2 linked regions of the Homo sapiens genome follow. The protein of the gene in region 1 interacts with the protein of each later gene in a pairwise test. Each region holds a gene or a part of one and is shown in the gene's direction. Other genes may lie near its edges. The genes, in order: SAMD12 and USP20.

Region 1 (11,152 bases):
AATGAAAATAATAAATATATTCCTACAAACTGATATGAGTGTTGTGGAGAAAACTAACCCAGAATGGGAGCCTAAGAAAAACTTTGCTAGGGCTTGTAGGCTTTAACCAAAGAGTAAAGGGATGCAATCAAATGACTTCAAATTGGAGTGAGATGATTAGATTTGGGTCATACCATTCTGTTTGCTGGTGGAGAGAAGCCACACTGGGGAAGAATTGTATGCAGATAGACTAATTAGTAAACTACTGAAATTAGTAGTGGTCTTAGTGAGAGAAAACCGTAGCTTAGACTTGAAGAGTACTGAAGATGAATATCTTCTAGCTAAAATCTTCCATTAAGATCACTGTACTTTAAGCTCATTCAAGAAAAGTTTCACTCTTAGAGAGTTCTTTTGCCCAAATAAGGTGGGATTTTGTTGAAATTCCCGATATCAAATGAGATTCTTCCTGTCAGAGTGCATTTCAATATATTTTTGGAAGCCAATAGGGTAAGTGGCACTTTTACACCTGATGAGAAAGTACATTGAGATGGAATGAAAAAAGTACTGAATGCAGAAGTCTCAAGTGTTGAATTCAGGCTCTGTCTGGGTGTATAAATTTGGGCTAATCATCCATCCTTGCCCAGCCTCTGTTTCATACCTATAAAATGAAGTAAATACTATCCACTGACAGCCATTGTAAAGATAAAATGCAATAATGTATGTGAAGGCTCACTGTACCCTATATAATGATTAAAAATATAAAGTTTATTAGGTAATTATTAACAGAGGAACAGAAGGGAAGGGAAAGGACTGGTCAAATAACTACAGTAAGCGGTCAGCTTTAGCATCTCTGCCTAGTAAAGATTTCTGGTCATTTTGGAAGTAGTAGTAAAAGGGAGCCCATCACACCTTAAGTTTTTAAACATCTGGCATAGAATAGTTCAGTTGTGAAAATAAGTTGCATCTCTTCTAGTGTTCTCTTGTGCTGATGTGTACCAATGACAAGTAATTCCAGATGACCATTCCTATGCTTTTACACACAGTTTACAATTTCCCCTGGTTGGGGAAGTAGGGGCAACTCTGCTCAGAAGAGGTGCTGCAAATTTATTAGGTTGGTGCAAAAGTAATGGCAGTTTTTACCATTAAAAAAAAAAATGGCAAAAACTGCAATTATTTTTACACCAACCTAATACTTCAGGGTTGGAAATCCAGAACACAGAAAGTTTGTATGCAGTCAGCCACTAGAGCCTACAATAATCCCACACTCTTTTCTATCAACAAAACCTATCCAAAAAGGGACAAGTGTCCAGGACACTGCTCTTCCATGGCACAGCCCTGTTTTCTTGCCTGTCAGAGGAGGCTCTGCATTGATCAAGTTAAGTTCATTCAGTGGCTTAACTACAAGTCGGACTGGGCAGACTTACTCCACACTTGGCAAATATCCTGAGGCCCTTGCTACTGCTTAACTGAATTATATCCATGTTCTTTGGGAATGGCCTCTCAGGCTTCCATGGATGATCAAAAGAGCAAACACTTATTGGGCATCCATTATGTGCCAGGACAGCGCACAACACTATAGATACTCTCTCAGTCACTGCTGAGCCCCAAACTGTGAGCTAGGTAATGTATACATTACACAATTAATAGCATTACAATACATGTGGGAAAACCAAGGCACAGAAATGTCAAAGAACTTTGCTAATAACCAACATCGAGTAAATGAGAGTCAGGATTACAATCTAGTTCTGTATGTCTACGAAACTTGAGTACTGAAGCCAAATATTCAGATAACCAGTTAATATAAAGGTAGACAGATTCTGCTCAAATTTTGAAGACATAATTTAAGTCTGATTTTGAAAGTATAGTTTAGACGAACGATGGTATAGAATATCACCAACTTATCAACAAACAGATAACACACAATGCGATTTAATTATGCACAATGTGATTTAAGCAAAAACAACTAGGCTTTTGCTTAAATCATGTTCCCTGAAATATGCTTACTTCCTCCAATGGAAGCCTGATATAACTTGAATGGTTGGCACTTTATTCATGACTCAAGGATTAGAGTTAGTATTTTTTATCTTAATTACAAAAAAATTATTTTTTTCCTCTCAGTTCCTCCTGTCAAAAATTTTACTTTTTAGGGTTTGAATCCTTTTGGTTAGGTTTAGAAGATCTCCCTGAACAGAATAGAAACATAATCTATTTACTTTTTGAGATTTATGAATGTTTTCTGTAGAGGCTTGTGAATATAGCAACCGAGTTAGAACAATAAATACAGTAAAGTACTTATATGTACTATTTTAAATCTTAGAATCCAGTGAAATCTGTAGCCTCATCTCAATATTTCTTTTTTTATTTAATTCACTATAAGGTAATGGGCTTTTCCTTCCCTTTCTGTGCTCTCTGATATATTCAGAAATTTTTGAATCATTCTAAATATCACAATTTCTGATATTAAAATATTTTAAACCCTTCATTTTATTAGTAATGACAATTCCTATTTGGCCAAGTGCTTATGAATTCAGATTTGTGATCACGTAATCAGTATTGAAATCTAGATGGAGTAACATCACAGAGTTCTACACTTAGGTAGACCTCAATCCCCTTGCTACAATTCATGTTTTGGAGACATGGGGCAAATTACTTAAATTCACTGAGCTTCAATTTCCTCATCTGGAAAATAGTGATATCTGACAATATTGTAGTGATTAAAGGAGATGATGTATGTCAAGATGCTTAGACAGAGCTTGGCACTTGTAATTTCCCAACAAATGCTACTTATAACAAGGATAAAAAAATAGTAGTAATAAATTATCTATTGAGTACTTACTATGTAACCACAATTATGACCAAGAATCTGGAAGATATGAAGCATAAGACTCAGTTCCAGCACTCGAAGTGCTTATATACTATAAGGAACAAACAATAGCATCATAATGAACACAGAATTTGGCTTATGAGAGGTATGGGATGAGGTCTGGACTTTGCCCCTTGCTAAAATTGGGTATATCTGTTAGGAACTGTACTTGGCTGCTGATAAAAAAGACCAAAAATAAGTCATGATTGCAGTCTGTGAAAGATACTAAAGCAGAAGCTAAGCTGTGCCCAAATTACTGAGCCACAGAAACTGAAGTAATACATGGGTATTGTTGTAAACCACTAAATATTGGGATAATTTGTTAACAGCAATCGATTAATACATGTGGCTCATCATGTTGTTGTATACAATTGTAATTCCTTCATTTGCATTACTTTATAGGAGGGTTTGGAAAGCTTTTTTTCTGCAAAGGATCAGGTAGGAAATATTTGAGGCTTTGTAGGACAAGAGGCAAAATTGAGGATATTATGTAAGTATGTCTTTATAATTTCCAGGCTTTGCAAATTATACTTTTTTTGTTTTTTTTCCAACCATTTAAAAATGTAAAAATCACACCTAGCTGGTGAGTTATAAGAAATAAATGGTGAGCCATATTTGGCTCATTGGTCTTAGTTTGTTGACCCCTGCTATATGGAATTATTTGGTTATACCACAGTTCATCTCTCCAATCTGTGTTGATAAATATTTGAGTTGTTTTCCATTTGGGAACATTAAAATAATGCAGCCACAAACATTCTTGCACATGTCTTTTGGAGAACATCTGTATGCATATTTGTTTGGTGTAAACCTAGGAGTAGAACTTCTGGGTCACAGGATAAGCATATATTCAGCTGAATATTTCAGATGGTTTTCCAAAGTGGTTTTGTGAATTTGCACACCACCAGCAATATATAAATCTTTATTGCTTCACAATCTTGCCAACGGTTGGTATTTTGTGTCTTTATCTTTCAAACATTCTAGAGATAAATGTAATTTTTTTTTAGTACTTCCCAGGTGATTCTAATGTTCAGCCAGAATTGAAAACCTCTGCGCAACTATTGTTTATCCCTTATTAGGCAGAACCACATGAAATTGTTCTATTTGTAGGTTTTAAAAATGGTCAAACATTGGCTATTTCATATGGTAGAAACTAACATCTCCTTCACATTTTATTTATACTAAAAATAAAACTCGTCTAGAATGCACATCACTGGGAAAAATATTAAAGATGAGCTAAGATGAAGTTTTAAAATTAACCACAGATTTCAATGACTTTTATATTTTTATATCACCCAGATATTTAAAAGCTTGGAACCAGACCAATGGTTTTCACCCTCAATGAAGACTGGAATCACCTGTGGGTTTTTAAAACCTGAGTGCCTCTACCCAAACCCCCATAAGCTCTGATTCTGTGAGACTAAGATAAAAGCTTAGGAATATATATTTGTAGAAGGCTGATGCACAGCCAAGGTTGAGAACCATTGATACTACCTGTCCTATGGCTTTCTTTCACATTCATTCAATCTCAGAAAATACTTAACACTTTGGTGATTTTATATACATAAAGTAGTGAAGCACCTGGATTTCAGTTCTTTCCAGAGTTTAGAATGCTTGGCTGTGTATTAGGTCGGAAAATTCTTTTTCCCATGGAAATTATGTCTCACTGAATGGGTCTCTCTCTACTGTACCTAAAAGAGAGGCTTAGGTTTGACTTGTACACAGCTCCATGGACTCAGAATTAAAGTATCAACAAGAGCATTTAATGGTTACACGCAGGTATTTTTTAAAGTACCTATACACATATTATTATTATATATTACCCAGTAGGGGAACTAAGCATGTAATTAGTGACCAGAACAACAGGTGTGCATGTATACACTGAGAAACGAAATTGTTTTGAAAAACATTTTTTTTTTTTTGCTGATGACCAAGACACACAAAAATGTCTAAGTAGTCATCATGGGAAGAATCCGATTTTTGTACTTCCTCATTTTACAGAGATTAACATTATATATGAGTGACTGGGTGGATGTGGTACCAAATACATTTGTAAACTGAAGGCCTTTAAAAGTCAATCCAGTCTTGAGCCAGATTTATTCCCGAGGCTATTCCCTTACCCCTTCCAGCCACAACTGTATCCGTATTTTCACACGCAGGAAAAAATGTTTAGAAACTTAATTTTTACGAGCTGTCGAATTGTATTGCTATCCACGTGATTCCCATTATCATGTCTGCTTATAGCATCCCCAGCACCTACAGCTAGGACATAGGTTCAGAAGTTGAAGGAACCTGATTCTCAGGCACTGTTAATTATTAGGCCCTATCACAGGCTGTCAACAGGCTCCAAGTCTAGGCAAATTGAAAGCCTCCTATCCTGGAAGCCAGACAGGCTTTCATCTGACCTCCTCCGGTGCAATCCTGGCTCCCAGACTTTGTTCCTAACAACCCCTTGGGGACGTTGCCTATTGGGGTTTAAGCCACTCCTCCTCCCCTACACCCCCATGCCAAGTATTTAGCCACCTGAACCACCCTGTAGGATAAGACAACTGTATCAACCGTCGGAATTCCCCCACAAAACCCATACATCTCAGGGTGCGAAGGAACAAGTTTCAACCTCACCCTGGGCAGCGTTCTCTGGCCCAGGTGGAGAACCACACAGGAGGACAGTGGTCCTGCTCTCCCTACTAAATGGTGGTTCAGGAGGCCAGGGGGCGGGGCGGTACCGGCGGCAGAGGCCCACGGACGAGCTCGCAGGAGCTCATCACACAGCTGACCGTCACCTGCCCACCTCACCACACCTGCTAGGTGCCAAACCCCTTGTAATGGACAGGGAAGGGCTCAATCACGGGTCCCTACTCTTAGCAGCGAACCTATCTCAGCGCACGGCCTCCTGGGAGATGTAGTCCAGACCGCTTCCCGGGAACCCCCCCCCCCTCCCCCCCCGCCCCGCCACAACCAGGCATCCCTGGTCCCCTCACAACTTCCCCAGGAGAGATTGCTCGGCCTGGCCAGCTGAAGCTGGAGTTGCTCTCCAAGTGTCGGGGCCAGGCGGCACTCCGCGGAGGAGTCGGGGTGCTCTCCCCAGTCCGAGCGAAGGGAGGGAACTACACTTCCCAGGACGCCCTGCGCGCGCCGAGCCGGGAGCCGGCTGCCTCGCTTTGCGTGACCGCGGCAGGTTGGTCCTGGAGCAGATAAGCGCAGAATATTTAGGCGAAAGCGAGAGGAAGGGGGGAGCGCGGGGCAGGAGGAGTACCTCGGCCAAGAAAATTATGCATGCGTTAGGGAAGCTCTGAGAGAATGGCTGTGGAAGGTAAGGGACGCTTGGGGCATTTTTAAGCTCCCTCTTAACCCGCGCACCCCAAGGCACACATCCCCGATGAAGCTTGGCGATCGTGGGGAGGCGAGGAAAGGGGGTGGCGGAGAGCGGGCCCCTTCCTCCTCCACCTCTTGGCACTCACCTGCGCCGCCAAGGCCAGTAGGCGCTTTAATTCAGTTGCTTTGGAGAGACGTGAAGGGTAGGTGCGTAGGACTTTGAGGTAGGAGGTGTGGAGACGAGTGTCCCTGATGCGAAACGATATCCTGGAAATGGGGGGAAAGCCGGAGGATCCGGCATGAGGTTTTGGCCCCGAGATGCCCTTTTTCCCTGCCCCCTCCCTCCGGAGCAGGCTGGGTGGCCCCGGGGCTGGGGATGCTTGGTTGGCCCCCCTCACGTGGGAGAGGTCCCCAGCCCAGGTGCGTCATCCGGAAGCTTGGACTGGGATTGGGTCGAGGGCCCTTCGTCCTATGCACCCAGCAGCGGCGGCCGCAGATGTACCCAGAGGGTAGAGGTGTCCCTACACCTGTCTCTGCTTATACAGCCAGCGCCCCGGGCTTAGCAAAGTTTACAGACATGAAATGTAATCAGCCAGGGAAAAGAAGTGCAACAACCTCTTCGATTTGGGTGAATCCTTTTCTTTGAAGATCACTTTCTTCTTACAGTCTTGAGCTTCGGCTTTGCAGTTTTGACCGTAAAGTCCTGCCTCCCTTGAACTTCCTGGTTGAAAGCAGGGTCAGGCTGTTCGTGAGGGATCCTGAGTTTTTCATTTCAGGTTATCTTACCTTGGAACACAAACTTCCTTGTTTAGGTAGTTTCTGAAGAAGAAAAAAAAACTGTGGACCGGAAGGGTTTGTGATGTCACATTAGAGGTCAAGCTGTGCCTGAATGATGAAATGATTGTGGGACGAAATGGGAGCCTACATTCACCTGCAGAATTTTGGTTTCTGAGTGCAGTCAGGTCAGAGGGCGTACTGAAGTAGGAAGAGGAGGGCTTGCCTGCCAGCTGCTTCAGGCGCCTTGCCAAGGGGAAATCAGCCTATTCCTTGTAGGCTAGAGACGAGAAGGCCACGAGGCTGGCTTGCTGCTCCCTCTCCTCCCTGCCCCAGGAGAAAGAAATTGAACTAATCTGACTCTTGCTCCCCTTATAACGACTGTCTTAACAACCTGAAGTAGCAACAACCCAGCTCCTATACTCAGCACCCATAAACTCGGGAAACTCTTGCCTTTGGGCTATCTCAGGTTCAGAGATCCACAGCCAGCCACTTCCAGCTTTCCTAACTTTATTAACAAAAATGAAATCCTCTCTCTCTCTTACAATCAAGATTTTTCTAGGTTTTCTTTTCTGTGCAAATGTACCAGTAGGGTGAGAATCTTTTTTTTTTTTTTTTTTTTTTTTTTGCATCGTTATGCTTGATAGTCAAGACTTCAGATGCCAAAGAACAAAACAAAAGCCGAGATAAAGTTCATCTTGAGCTTGAGACCAAGGATATGTTGACCTACTCCTTAAGTGTCCGTTCTATGTCACCCATCAGGTGACACTGATTATGATCTCTCGTCTTCACCACTCCTGTGTCCCCAAGACAGGGACACTCCTCTTTGTTGCTAGTCCACACTGTTCTCGAAAACAATTTCTTGTTCCCTGTAAGAAGTATAAATTTGTCTTATTTCTTGCGTGATGGGTGATTACACCAGTGAAGCCAGACTTTACAAAAACAAGAACTTAGGAAGGAAGTACATGTGGACTATGGAGAGTTTATTTTCTAGTGACTTGGTTAAAGTACCTGTCTAGTAAACAGGAGATCCTGAGTTTGAATCACAATGAGGTCTCAAAGAATGAAGGAAGTATTTTAAACTTTAACTTCAAATATGATTCCTATCTTTGGTCTTTGCAAAGATATCAGCCTGGACCAGTCCCTTCCTGGTTACTCCTACTTGGTCTTTCAAGCCTTTGGGAAAATGTCACTTCCTCTGGGAAACTGTCCCAGCCCTCCTTTTTCTTCTGCCTTCTCAGCACTCTTTCCAGTCTATGGGAAGTGCCTCCTGCTCACATTTATCTTAATACTTATCATACTTAATCTGCCTCTTACTAGACTCTAACCCCCTTGGGGGTTAGACTTGGACTTTATATTCCTAGCTCATAGCACAGTACTTTGCCCATAATAGGTACTCAATGCTCATGAATTGCATGGCAAATATATTCATGGAGGTTTTGTAACTGGTTCTATAAGGGTACATGGGGCTTTCTTGGAAGCCTAAATGTGATACAATAAGGGATTTCTGACAGATTTGAGGATGGGAGATTTTTTTTTTTTTTTTTTTGAGACAGAGTCTTGCTCTGTCGCCCAGGCTAGAGTACAGTGGCGCGGTCTCAGCTCACTGCAAGCTCCGCCTCCCAGGTTCACGCCATTCTCCTGCCTCAGCCTCCCAAGTAGCTGGGACTATAGGCACCCGCCACCATGCCTGGCTAATTTTTTTGGTATTTTTAGTAGAGACGGAGTTTCACCATGTTAGCCAGGATGGTCTCGATCTCCTGACCTCGTGATCTGCCCACCTCGAAGTGCCCTTCTCTTCAGTCTTTTGTCTTGATGCCCAAAAAATCTTTTAGAACAGTTTACCTCTACTGCTGGGTGACATTGTCCCTGGACACATTTGGGATATGTAGGAACTGCTGCTGGGGGCTGCTGTTGGTATTTTGTGCCCATGGCCACAGATAATAAATGTCCTGCAGCGCATGGCCATCCCGTATAACGAGGCCAAGCCATGGCCAAGTAATGATCAGTTTACCCAACTTATTGAGAAATGCTGCTTCAGAGAATAAGGAGTTTTGCCAGAGGAACTGGAATAGAAAATACAGTTCGAATTGCTTAACATTCTAAGCTTTAGTCTCCACATCTGGAAAAAATGGGCTCACTACTGCTTTCCTCCTGGGAACATTGTGAGGATTTTTTTTTTTTTTTTTGAGACGGAGTCTTGCTCTGTCGCCCAGGCTGGAATGCAGTGGCGCGATCTCGGCTCACTGCAAGCTCCGCCTCCCGGGTTCACGCCATTTTCCTGCCTCAGCCTCCCGAGTAGCTGGGCTACAGGTGCCTGCTACCACGCCCGGCTGATTTTTTTGTACTTTTAGTAGAGACAGAGTTTCACCATGTTAGCCAGGATGGTCTCCATCTCCTAACCTCGTGATCCGCCCGCCTCGGCCTCCCAAAGTGCTGGGATTACAGGAGTGAGCCACCGTGCCCTGCTCATTGTGAGGATTAAATAAAGGAGAGGGCTTCTAGAAGGGTGTCTGGAACCTGCATCCTAAGTAAATATCACTTGTACTCTCATCCCTTCTCTTAGGAAAAGCTATACTATTTGGCATGTGTTTTATATCCTGAATTTTCACTTATTCATGCCAGCCAGTTTTTCTAATTAGTAACAAATTAGAAGGTTTTTTACTATGTGTAACTTTTTCTTAAGTAAACTTGAATTTGTAAAAGTGTTACTAGCAAGTAGTTCACTCATTCACTTTGCTGAACCTGCAGCCGTGTGTTTAAGATGAAAAAGAGGTGCCCTTTGTTTATTGTTTTGTAACTACCCTGTGTTATGTTTTCTTCTTAGTTTATTTGCAACATCCTATTTATGTCTCCTAGTCTGCTTGTGACCCATGCTTTGCATTTATGGGCAGCTTACAGGTATGCTTTCCCGCCACAGAACAGGGTACGACCTTATGGTCTGCATTTGGATTAGGATTATACTGGCATACATTGCCTTTTTTTAAAAAAAAAAAAAACAAAAACAATGTCTTGTGAAATAATTTAGCAGGACTGGGGACTAGGACCTCTTGGAAGGAGGTAGCAGGGACCCCAAACTAATCCATTCTCTATGGACAGACTGTGTATAGACGGTTAAACCTATTGATGTTTTCTAACAGAAATGGGTTGCAATATTATTCAGGGAGAAGAAAAATGTGGATTCATTGGGGACAGTGTCGTATTCATCTTTGTATTCATCTCTGTATTCCAGGGATGGCGCCTGGCACTTAGGAGGCCCACAGTCATTGTTTCATGAATGACATATAAATGCACGAGTCTCCAGAGCTAGAGAAGGATTTTTTTTTTACCCCTCATCCCCAATTCCTTTTCTTGCTTTGTCCTCAGATATTTATGAAAAAAATAGGGAGGATGGACATTGTACATGGTAATTTCTATTCCAGGTCTAACAGAATAGCACCTCTCATGTGGCAGAAAAATGATTTCCAATATTCAGCACTCACCTCTCTCCCCAAGAAAAACATGTCAAATGCAAGACTGTGTGCTCTTAATGACATCTATATTAAGGGATCTGAATTTTCCATCATAAATGAACATGGTAGCTTACCAAATATCTTCTGATAAGTCATTCAGTGCTCAGGTTCTATGTTTTTTCTCCTGTAGAAGAGTGAAGAAACTACACATCACCAAAATATTGTAAGGCTAAGTAATAATAACGGTGACTGGGAAAATGGGAAATGAGATAGCGTCAAACGTTTGTGACAAATAGAAGCAGTCACGGTAAACACTGGGCTTTGCAGCCCCATAAATGATGACTTTGTACCCAACTTGAACTCAGAACTGCATCACAGAGAGTAAAAGGAGTCACATGGGAGATAAAAACATCATTTTTATCACAAGCTTATAGTGGGTTATTTTTTTCTGACTTTGGGTTGGAGGGTAAGTGGGCTTGCTAATATTGTATGCAGCAGTGAACTTACCCGTCATAGGGATGCCTCCCTCTATGCTAGTGGTCCTTAACCTTTTTGGCACCAGGGATCAGATTCATGGAAGACAGTTTTTCCATGGGGGATGGTTTTGGGATGAAACTGTTCCACCTCAGATCATCAGGCATTAGATTCTCATAAGGCATGTGCAACCTAGATCTCTCACATGTGCAGTTCACAGTAGGGTTTGCACTCCTCTGAGAATCTAATGCCTCTGTTGATCTGACAGGAGGTAGAGCTTGGGTGGTAATGCTTGCTT
Region 2 (11,119 bases), on another chromosome or scaffold:
TGGTGCGCACAGATAAGAAGCCAGCCCTGTGCAAGAGCTACCAGAAGCTGGTCTCTGAGGTCTGGCATAAGAAACGGTGAGCAGCTGCATCCCTAGCCTTGGGCGGTGTGTGGGGACTGGGGTTTCCTGTCAGCACCCATGATTGAGTACTTCCTGTGGATTCAGCCCCCAGCGAGGACTTGCCTCACTTTGTCCCGGGTAATGCTTGCAGCAAGCCTGCGGGGTGGAAATTGCATCCAGTCCTGTTTTACAAATAGGGAAACTGAGGTGCAGAGCACTTTAAGTATCTTGCTCAAGGTCATAGAACCTGCAAAAAGTGAGCTAGAATTTGACCTACTGTTGACCCTACCGAGCAGCCACTGGTAGATGTCTTTGCCAAGAGACATGGTGACCCGGCCTCAGCCAGGACTGTGTGTGTAGAAGGAGGTGTGGGGCAGGGGAGCACAGACTGGATGGAGCTTCTGGCACAGTATGAAATTAATTTAAAGATCAGAGTCTGTGATTAGATCTGTTTCTCCAGGAAAAGTCAAAGTTGGGAATAATTTTAAATGAGCACATAGAAATATGTATTATGTGTAGAAGCGGATGAAAAACCAGCGTAGGGCCAGGCGCAGTGGCTCACGCCTGTAATCCCTGCACTTTGAGAGGCTGAGGCAGGTGGATCACGAGGTCAAGAGATCGAGACCGTTCTGGCCAACATGGTGAAACCCCGTGTCTAATAAAAATACAAAAATTAGCTGGGTGTGGTGGCGTGTGCCTGTAGTCCCAGCTACTCGGGAGGCTGAGGCAGGAGAATCACTTGAACCTGGGAGGCGGAGGTGGCAGTGAGCCGAGATCGCACCACTGCACTCCAGCCTGTTGACAAAGCGAGACTCTGTCTCAAAAAAAAAAAAACAAAAACAAAACAAACCAGCATGGGAGAAATATGTATTAAATGTAGAAGCAGATTAAAAACCAGCGTGGGGCCAGATGCAGTCACTGACACCTGTAAATCCAGCACTTTGGGAGGCCGAGGCAGGAGAATCATTTGAGCCTAGGAGTTTGAGACCGGCCTGGACAACACAGCAAGACCCCGCCTCTACAAAAACTACAAAATTAGCTGAGTGTGGTGTGAGCACTTGTGGTCCCAGCTACTCAGGAGGCTGAGGTGGGAGGATCGCTTGAGTCCAGGAAGTTGAGGCAGGCTGCAGTGAGCTTGATCATGCCATTGCACTTCAGCCTGGGCGACAGAGTGAGACCCTGTCTCAAAAAAAAAAAAAAAAAAAAAAAAGTCTGTGTGCAGTGGCTCACTCCTGTAATCCCAGTACTTTGGGAGGCCGAGGCGGGTGGATCGCAAGGTCAGGAGTTCGAGACCAGCCTGGCCAATGTGGTGAAACCCCGTCTCTACTAAAAATACAAAAATTAGCTGGGCATGGTGGCGCGCACCTGTATTCCCAGCACTTTGGGAGGCTGAGACAGGAGAATCACTTGAACTCGGGAGGCGGAGGTTGCAGCAAGCCAAGATCATGCCACTGCACTCTAGCCTGGGAAACAGAGCAAGACTCTGTCCCAAAAAAAAAAAAAAAAAAACCCAGCATGGTACAATATAATTCCGCTTGTGTAAGAAGCCAAGTTTAAATGTGTATCTGTATGTATTTTTGTATATGCATCTGTAGTTTCACAGAACCAGAAATCTAATGGTAAGTATCTGGTGCCATTGGTGGTGGTGTTTTTCTCTTGTACTTTTCTGAAATTTTAGATTTGTCAATAATGAACATGTCTTACTTTTGAAATGAGAAAACCACAGTAAGTGTTTCAGAATGAAAACAAATCATGTTTAGGCGAGTTTGTTGTGCACCAGAAGGAAATGATGCTATTTTATTTGAGCTCTTTGCTTAATTGAGGCAGCTATGACTTGACATTTTCTTCTTGTCTGTAGAGATGTGTGAGCCTCTTGGGGCTCCTGGCTGAGTAGGCCCCTCCCCAAATGTCAGGAAACGCCACACTCTGATCCAGCCTGACGGGCTGGCTGCCTGCTTCTCTCGGGAATGAGCAGCTCAAGGCAGGCTACCTGGACTAATGGGTTTGGGCTTCCTACAGGCCAAGCTACGTGGTCCCCACCAGTCTGTCTCATGGGATCAAGTTGGTCAACCCAATGTTCCGAGGCTATGCCCAGCAGGTAAGCCATCTGAGCTGCCCAGGGGACACCCAAGGCCATGACCCACCAGGCCTGACTTTGACGCCAAAACCAGAGTGGAAAATCGCAATGGCAGCTGAGCACTGGTTGGCAGGTCTCACGGACCAGGCTCTCACTCCTAAGCCCTTCACACGTGTGAGGACAGTGGAGCCTCCCAGCAACCTGCTGACATTTAACCCCACTTCACAGATGGACAGACTGAGGTTCAGGGGCCGAGCCACTTGCACAGGCCACACAGCTAGTAAATGGTGGAGGGGAATTCTTTTTTTTGTGGGGGAGGGTGGGTACAGGGTCTCACTCTGTCACCCAGGCTGGAGTGCAGTGGTGCAGTCATGGCTTACTGCACCCTCGACCTCCCGGGCTCAAGCAGTCGTCCCACCTCAGGCTCCGAAAGTGCTGTGATTATAGGCATGAGCCACTGCACCCGGCGGAGGGGAGATTTGAACCCAGGCAACCTTGCTGCAGGGCCTCCGCGTTGCACCCAAAATGACACAGGGTTTCATTTCCCCAAACCACAGGCAAAATTTCACTTTTATTAAAGTAAAAAGTTTGATTAAAAATTTTTTTTAAATCTAGAGAACCCTTTTGAAACCAATCACATTTTTCTATTTTATAAAATAATGAGACCAAGACAGAGTGCAGCCACGCGTACACCTCAGCCCCGGGCTGATGGCTCCTGCCCTCCAGCCTCCTGCCCCAGATGGCCCACAGCCTGGGCTTTCATGCCAGGCCTGCAGGCAGAGCTGGACCTGGCTGGGTCACCTCTTGTGCTGCCTGAAATGAGCACCATGGACGGAGTGGCAGTCATGTGGGGACAACTTCCGCCCTCTACCCCCTGCCTGCTGTCCCGTCCCAGGATGAAGTCTGCTGGGCCTTTGGCTCCTGCTTGAGAAGCTCAGCACTGCCTGGACACCTCTCTTTTTGGGGAGTGATAACATGCACAATGACTAAAATTCACTGAGCACCATTTAAGTGGTCACAACTTAGTCCTCATAGAAGTCTCACAAAGTGGGCACTGTTGTCACCCACACGTTACAGGTAAAGAGCTGAGGCTCAGAGAGGTTCTACCCCTCACCCAGGTCACACAGCACATCCTGGCAGAGATGGCATTCAGGCCTACCTGAGCCCATCCCTCAGCACAGCACCACCCTGACTGTGTGCAAGGCGCCCTGCCGGCTTTCAGCTCTGGGTCAGGATGCCGTTACGGAGGGCCATGCGCTGCGGCAGGACTCCATCTGGGCTCCGGCAGAAGCATCCCTTTCTGTGGTTTTAGGATATCGTGTGGGGACACTTCTGAGGCTGAACTGTAGACGCAGCTGCGGGCGCCTCTTAAGGGCCAAAAGACTCTTTTGTGCTTCTGCATGGATTGAGATTTTGGCAAGGAACACATAGTACTTTTGTTGAAAGGAAGAACCAGAAAGAGAAGTAGATGGCAGATTGAAAGCCTCTTCTTGAAAGGGCCTTTGATCGTGCCTGCCACAGGACACGTGTCCCCTCCCTGATGCAATGTAACCTCGTGGTTCATTCCTCTGATCTTGGAGCCTGACACTTTGCCTTGGGGAGTCCCTCCTGAGCCCTCCCTTCCCTGCACATGAGTGGAGAGAGCCGGGATCCTCTTCCCAGATGTGTGACATGAGGCTGGCTCTGGCTGCTACGTGACCCCTGCCTCCTGGGGATCAGAGCCTGGGCTGAGGGCTGCTTCTAACAACCAGGTCAGGGACTGCTGGGGCTGATTTGGGCTCGGAACCCAAGTCCTTCTCCAATGCCCAGCACCACCCGAGCACCCGCTAGCTGCTGGGGTCTGCTGCCACCACCACGTTCTGACCTCCCAGTGCACCCCCTGTGTGAGCACACAGATCTCAGTGGGGCTCACTGGGCGCCTCTGCCCGAGCCCCTGCTGCCTTGGCTTCCTGCTGTGCTGGTGGCCCAGTCACAGAGTGGTCAGGATAAAATGGTCATTGCTGGGATTTGAGACCCAGGCAGCCTGCAGGGGCAGCTTAGACTGAGTCATGACCAGGTCTGTGGGAAGGTGAGAGCAGGCAGTGAGGGTATGTGGGGGCTGGCACAGGGACTGAGGGAGCAGGGGGAGCCAGAGGAAGGGTAGAGCATGCAGGCAGTCTGGCCTGTGGGTAGCGTGGCTTGGGGCAGGACTCGGGTGAGTCCTCTTTTGGCATCACACTCCCTCATCCTTCCGCCACCCCCCTGCCCACCTCCACTGGTCTCATCTGTAGGGAGAAAGGTGGCTCGGGCTTAATGTGGTACTGCCTCTCTGTCCCTCCCGTGCTGAGCTTGCAGCAGAGGCAGGAGATTCAGAGCCGGAGCCGGGGAGTTGCATGGACCCAGGTGCATACCTGGCTCTGACACTTTCTAGCTGTGTGTCCTGGTAGGTGTCCTTTAGCCTCTCCAGTCCTCACTGTTATCCTCAGAAGAATGGGGTTAGGACAGACTGCCATGGGAGGCCGCTGTGGGGGTGAGCAACTCTTCTGCAGGGGGCGCCCATGAGGTCCTCCTAGATGGAGGCTGGCGCTCTCATCAGCCACAGGGCGCTGGAGACTGGTTCCTCCTGCCTCCAGGGGAGCCCTGTTGATGCAGCCCCTGGTTCTAGGACACCCAAGAGTTCCTTCGCTGCCTGATGGACCAGCTGCACGAGGAGCTCAAGGAGCCGGTGGTGGCCACGGTGGCGCTGACGGAGGCTCGGGACTCAGATTCGAGTGACACGGATGAGAAACGGGAGGGTGACCGGAGCCCATCAGAAGATGAGTTCTTGTCCTGTGACTCGAGCAGTGACCGGGGTGAGGGTGACGGGCAGGGGCGTGGCGGGGGCAGCTCGCAGGCCGAGACGGAGCTGCTGATCCCAGATGAGGCGGGCCGAGCCATCTCTGAGAAGGAGCGGATGAAGGACCGCAAGTTCTCCTGGGGCCAGCAGCGTACAAACTCGGAGCAAGTGGACGAGGACGCTGATGTGGACACTGCCATGGCTGCCCTTGACGACCAGCCCGCGGAGGCCCAGCCCCCGTCACCACGGTCCTCCAGCCCCTGCCGGACGCCAGGTATCAGCTGGCCGGGGACTGCGGGAGGAACCTCAGCCTATGGCCCAGTACCTACCGGGTGCTGAGCGCCGACCTGCAGTAGCCCCCGGGGGACGGGTTCTTCACTAGACCCGAATGACAGTGGGGAAGTCAGCCTCCGGGGGGGCTCAGTGATGTGCCCAGGGTCCCCTAGCTCATAATGCTGGAGCCCAATTCAGAGCCCTCTCCCAGAGCCCTGAGCCTTCCAGCCGGACATGGATTGGACAGGTCTGCTCCGGCCTGTGTGCTGGGGCCAGGAGTGGGCACATGACAGAGGAGACACATTAGGGTCAGGCTTTCGTCCCTTTAGGAGGGGCTGGCAGGTCATCTTCCTGCCCACTCGTGGAGCTGGCCTGGCTGCCCTGGCCCAGCATGGTACCCTCTCTGCCCCCAGAGCCGGACAATGATGCTCACCTACGCAGCTCCTCTCGCCCCTGCAGCCCCGTCCACCACCACGAGGGCCATGCCAAGCTGTCTAGCAGCCCCCCTCGTGCAAGCCCCGTGAGGATGGCACCGTCGTACGTGCTCAAGAAAGGTTCGGGGGGCACGGGAGGGTGGGTCAGCTTGAGGCTGGGAGTACAGATTACGCCCGTAGCTGCCTTTCTCATGGCCCCCTGTGGCGGAGGGCCGGGCTATGGGCTCCTCTCAGGTACACCCCTGAGACACCAGTGTGGGAGCCACGTTTTGCAGAGGATGACACAGAGGCATGAGATGGTGAATTGCTTACCCAGTCATGTGACTCACGGATGTCACTCCACATCCTGTCAAAGGAAGCCGCAGGGCCCGCACCTCGCCCCGGCCAGGCAGGTGGAGGCTGGGCTAGTCCTGTGCTGTGTCCCCAGCCCAGGTATTGAGTGCTGGCAGCCGGAGGCGGAAGGAGCAGCGCTACCGCAGCGTCATCTCAGACATCTTTGACGGCTCCATTCTCAGCCTTGTGCAGTGTCTCACCTGTGACCGGGTGGGTGCCCCAGGGATGGGGGGAGCTGGGCCAGGCTGCCAGTGGCCTCAGCAGCTCTTGCCCTGACTGGGTGCAGGGTGGGCTCTCCACGGGTGCTCCCTGCTTTTATCCAGGGGAGGGCCCTGCCTGCGTGGATCCCGTGTCTATGGCCTGGGGAGTAGTCCCTCTGCCCCTCACCTGCTGCTTGGGGTTTGGGGTGCAGACATTGCCAGAGGATGGGCAGCAGACTGACCTTCAACCCCACAGGTATCCACCACAGTGGAAACGTTCCAGGACTTATCACTGCCCATTCCTGGAAAGGAGGACCTGGCCAAGCTCCATTCAGCCATCTACCAGAATGTGCCGGCCAAGCCAGGCGCCTGTGGGGACAGCTATGCCGCCCAGGGCTGGCTGGCCTTCATTGTGGAGTACATCCGACGGTGCGCCCACCTTGCCACTACTGGGCGACATGGGCTGGGCCTGTCCTGGTTTTCCTGGGCGGGAGACAGTACACAGTGAAGTCCATGCATTTGGGGAACCAGGGAGGTCCTGGGAGGAGCTGGGGGCCGAAGCCTGCAGAGGAGTTGGCTTAATATGCAGGGGATTTCTTGGCTACTTTGAAGTGGCCAGGATTGGATAGTCCCTTGGAGCTGGAGGGCGATGGACAGCAGGGAGGTGACCACATGGCAGGTTGAAGGGAGGGCAGCAGCAGGACACAGGCCTGGTTGGCGGGAAGGGCAGCAGCTTTCCCAGGGCTGCCTCTCCTGCCTGAGGCCAGAGACCCGCATGACCCCAGGGAGGGGGTAGCATGATCATGGCCGCAACACAGATGAAGGAGGCCAGGCTTGCGGAGAGATGATGTCACTCGGCCCAGGACACGGACGTGTCTGGCTCCAGGCCTCTGCCCCGACCCGCCGTGCCCGGCTGCTTCTCTGGGCCTTCAGGGTCCTTCTGCGGCTCAGGCCTGACAGACCTCAGCCAGAGTCCCTTCAGCTCCTGTTCTTGCCCAGGCCCTGGCAGCACCCCTGCACTCCTTTTCTGTCTGTAGGTTTGTGGTATCCTGTACCCCCAGCTGGTTTTGGGGGCCTGTCGTCACCCTGGAAGACTGCCTTGCTGCCTTCTTTGCCGCTGATGAGTTAAAGGGTGAGGGGCCTGGCTGGCAAGGGTCGGGGAGGTGGAGGGTTGTGGGGACGGGGATGTGCAGACCCCAGCAGGCCAGCATGCAGCCCAGGGCTTGTGGGATGCACAGCCAGGCTAGACTTGGCTTCCAAGGTTGATCCCATCAGATACCCACGCCCACTGCCAGCCACGCTGGACCAGGGCCATGTGCTATCCCAACCCCATCATCTTGCAGCTCTTGAGTGTTCACTTATTTTTATTTTTACCAATTTGGTGGGCAAAAATGATGTATGTTAATTTTTCATTTCCTTGATTACTGATGAGTTTCTACATTTTTTGTTAAATATACTGGCTCTATGTATTTATTTAAACATTGCCCATTCCTGTTCTTGTTCTTTTTCTCCGTTGGCTATTTGGCATCTAAACCTTTGGGAAAACTCTCTCTTTTTTTTTTATTTCCAATTTTCAATTGCGATAAAATACACAAAATGTAAAATTTACCACCATAACCATTGTAAATGCTGTTTTTAACAGAAAGTGCACAGTCGAGTAGTGTTAAATACATGCACATGGTCACGCAGCCATCCTCCCCATTCATCTCCAGAACTTTTACATCTTGCAAACCTGAAACTCAGTATCCGTGAAACAGCTCCCTACTCCCACCTCCCAGCCCCTGGCAACCTCCACATTCAAGTCTGTGAATGTGACTACTCTAAAGGCCTCATAGAAGTGGAATTATACAGTACTTGCCATTTTGTGACTGACGGCTTTTACTGAGCATAACGTCCTTAGGGTTCATCCACGTTGCAGCGTGTGTGTCGGAATGCCCTGCCTTTTGTATGCTGGTTATTTATTGTTCCATTGTGTGGATGGCTGGGGCCTTTCTGCTTATTCGTTCATCCGTCAGTGGACACTCAGGCCGCTTCCCTGTTAGCTATTGTGAGGAATGCTGCTCTGACCATGGGTGTGCACACCTCTCTTCTTTCATCCCTTTGGGTCTATGCCTATTTTTAATTTCTCGAGGAGCCACCGTACTGGGTTCCACAGTGGCCACCCCATTTCACATTCCCACCAGTGACGCACAAGAGTTCCAGTTTCTCCACATCGTCGTCCACACTCATTTTGTTTACTTTTTTGATGGGAGTCAACCTCATGGGTATGAGGTGGTATCTCATTGTGCGTTTTTTTTGTTTTGTTTTGTTTTGTTTTTGAGACGGAGTCTCTCTCTTGACGCCCAGGCTGGAGTGCAATGGCATGATCTCGGCTTATTGCAACCTCCACCTCCTGGGTTTAAGCGATTCTCCTGCCTCAGCCTCCCGAGTAGCTGGGATTACAGGCACATGCCACCACGGCTGGCTAATTTTTGTATTTTTAGTAGAATGGGGTTTCACCATGTTGGCCAGGCTGGTCTTGAACTCCTGACCTCAGGTGATCCGCCTGCCTTGGTCTCCCAAAGTGCTGGGATTACCGGCGTGAGCCACCGCACCCAGCCTCGTTGTGGTTTTGATTTGCATTTCCTAATGATAGTGATGTTAAGTGTCTTTTCATATGCTTGTTGGCCATTTGTAAGTGTTTGGAAAAACATCTATGTGAGTCTTTTGCCTATTTTGTTTTTTGTTGCTTGTTATAGGGATTCTTTTTTTTCTTGAGACAGAGTCTCACTCTGTCACCCAGGCTGGAGTGCAATGGCATGATCTTGGCTCACTGCAGCCTCCGCCTCCTGGGTGCAAGCAGTCCTCCCATCTCAGCCTCCCGAGTAGCTGGGATTATAGGCACGTGCCACCACACCTGGCTAATTTTTGTATTGTTAGTAGAGATGGGGTTTTGCCATGTTGGCCAGGTTGGTCTCGAACTCCTGACCTCAAATGGATTTGCTGCCTTGGCCTCCCAAAGTGCTGGGATTACAGGTGTGAGCCACGGTGCCGGCCTCGTTAGTTAGAGGAGTTCTTTATGTGTCCAGATACGTGACTTATAACCCTGTCCTCCCATCCTGTAGGGTGCGTTTCATTCTGTGGTTTGTGTCTTTTGCTTTGGTTGCCTGCACCTTTGGTGTTGTGTTTCAGAGATCATCGCCAGATCCAATGTCATGAAACTTTTTTCCTACTTTTCTCCTAAAAGTTTTATAGTTTTAGGTCTTATATTGAGATCTTTGATCCCATTTTGACTTAATTTTCACAGTGTGCATGGAGGGGGAAACTATACATTAAGATTTTAAGCTGGTCATGGTGGCATGTACCTGTGACCCCAGCTACTCCGGAGGCTGAGGGTCCTCTGAGCCTAGGACTTTGGGACCAGCCTGGGCAACATAGCAAGACCCTATCTCAAAAAAATTGTTTCAAATACATTTTCTGTAATTAATGTTGCACTTCCCACCCCACCTCCATTTTGCCTTTTGCCTTTTAATTTTGCTTTTGGTGGTATCTTACAGATGTTGAAGTATTTCTGGGGTCAAATATAACCATTTCTCCCTTGTATGGATTCTGGCTGTGGGGCCCAGCCAGGGCCTTCCCTCCCTCCAGTACCTCTCAGGTTTTATTTCTTTTTCTTTTTCTTCTTCTTTTTTTTTTTTTTTTTTTGAGATGGAGTTTTACTCTGTCACCCAGGCTGGAGTGCAGTGGCATCAGCTCACTGCAGCCTCTGCCCCGAGCCCCCCAGGTTCGAGCGATTCTCCCACCTCAGCCTCCTGAGTAGCTGGGATTACAGGCACGCACCACCACGTCCAGCTAATTTTTGTATTTTTAGTAGAGATGGGGTTTCGCCATGTTGGCCAGGCTGGCCTCGAACTCCTGACCTCAGGGGATCCGCCCGCCTCGGCCTCCCAAAGTGCTAGGATTACACGCATGAGCCACCATGCCCAGCCAGGTTTTATTTCTTAAGCAGAAATCATTATAGTCACTTTTTTTTGCTCCCTCATTTTGCATCCTTGCTAACCTCTGACCCTTTGTTTTACTGCCCTAGGTGACAACATGTACAGCTGTGAGCGGTGTAAGAAGTAAGTGAGCCTTCCCCCGCCTTCTCCCTAACTGCCGTTTCTGTGCCCTACATATTCCCCTTGGGTTCCTGCAGAGAGCCCCCTATAATCCTGCCTTCCCAGAAGGGAGCCGGGTGGAGGGCTGCTTCCCTGGCCCCTGGCCCTGATGCCGGACACTGATGCTGGCTCGTGCTTCCTCCCCAGGCTGCGGAACGGAGTGAAGTACTGCAAAGTCCTGCGGTTGCCCGAGGTGAGCCAGTGGCCTCGGCAGCCTCCTCCTCAGCTATCTCGGGATGCACACCAGCACACACCAGGCAGGGGCTGAGCCTGCTCCACTGCTCGGGCACTTCTGTGCTGCAGGGGCCGTGGAGACTCCATAGCTTTGGCTGAGAAACCTCTGGGAAGGGTTGGCAGGGGGCACATTTTTCCAACTGTGACTTGGTGCCCTCTCTCGGTAGCCTCAGCACATGTTGTCTAACATGTTGTATGAGGGCCCAATGGGAGGCAGGTGTGTGGGACACTGGGTTACCACCCCCAGTGAGACAGCTATGGCTCCTGCCAGCTGCAGAGTGGCGGGAGGAGAGCTGGTCCAGCTGGGGCTGTTGCCAGGGGTCTTTCTGAGGAGTAACGTCTGAGTGGGGCCTGGAGGGTGTAGGCTGGTGTCAGCGTCGTGGATGGAAGGCACAGAAGGAACAGACAAAACCCCAGTGCAGGAGCAGGCTTGTCCGCACCAAGGAAGGCACGTGTGGCTGGAGCAAAGAGGAGAGGGCCCTGGCAGAGGGGGCCCAGGTTGGGGCTGTGGTGGCTCGGGGAGGCTTTGTGGCTTCTCAAAGGTAGTGCCGACAGAA

Evidence for each region.
Region 2: the proteins of SAMD12 (region 1) and USP20 interact in binary tests that used the Homo sapiens proteins (3 or more experiments, as listed by UniProt).

Annotation. Positions count from the first base shown.
Region 1 is NC_000008.11:118,616,804-118,627,955, reverse strand, and holds the start of SAMD12 (sterile alpha motif domain-containing protein 12), read left to right. Parts: upstream 1-5,992; 5' UTR 5,993-6,139; coding exon 6,140-6,152; intron 6,153-6,300; exon of another isoform or gene 6,301-6,421; intron 6,422-6,769; exon of another isoform or gene 6,770-6,955; intron 6,956-11,152.
Region 2 is NC_000009.12:129,863,224-129,874,342, forward strand, and holds part of USP20 (ubiquitin carboxyl-terminal hydrolase 20), read left to right. Parts: coding exon 1-76; intron 77-2,079; coding exon 2,080-2,158; intron 2,159-4,781; coding exon 4,782-5,226; intron 5,227-5,638; coding exon 5,639-5,779; intron 5,780-6,086; coding exon 6,087-6,202; intron 6,203-6,381; exon of another isoform or gene 6,382-6,448; coding exon 6,449-6,621; intron 6,622-7,229; coding exon 7,230-7,324; intron 7,325-10,258; coding exon 10,259-10,292; intron 10,293-10,475; coding exon 10,476-10,521; intron 10,522-11,119.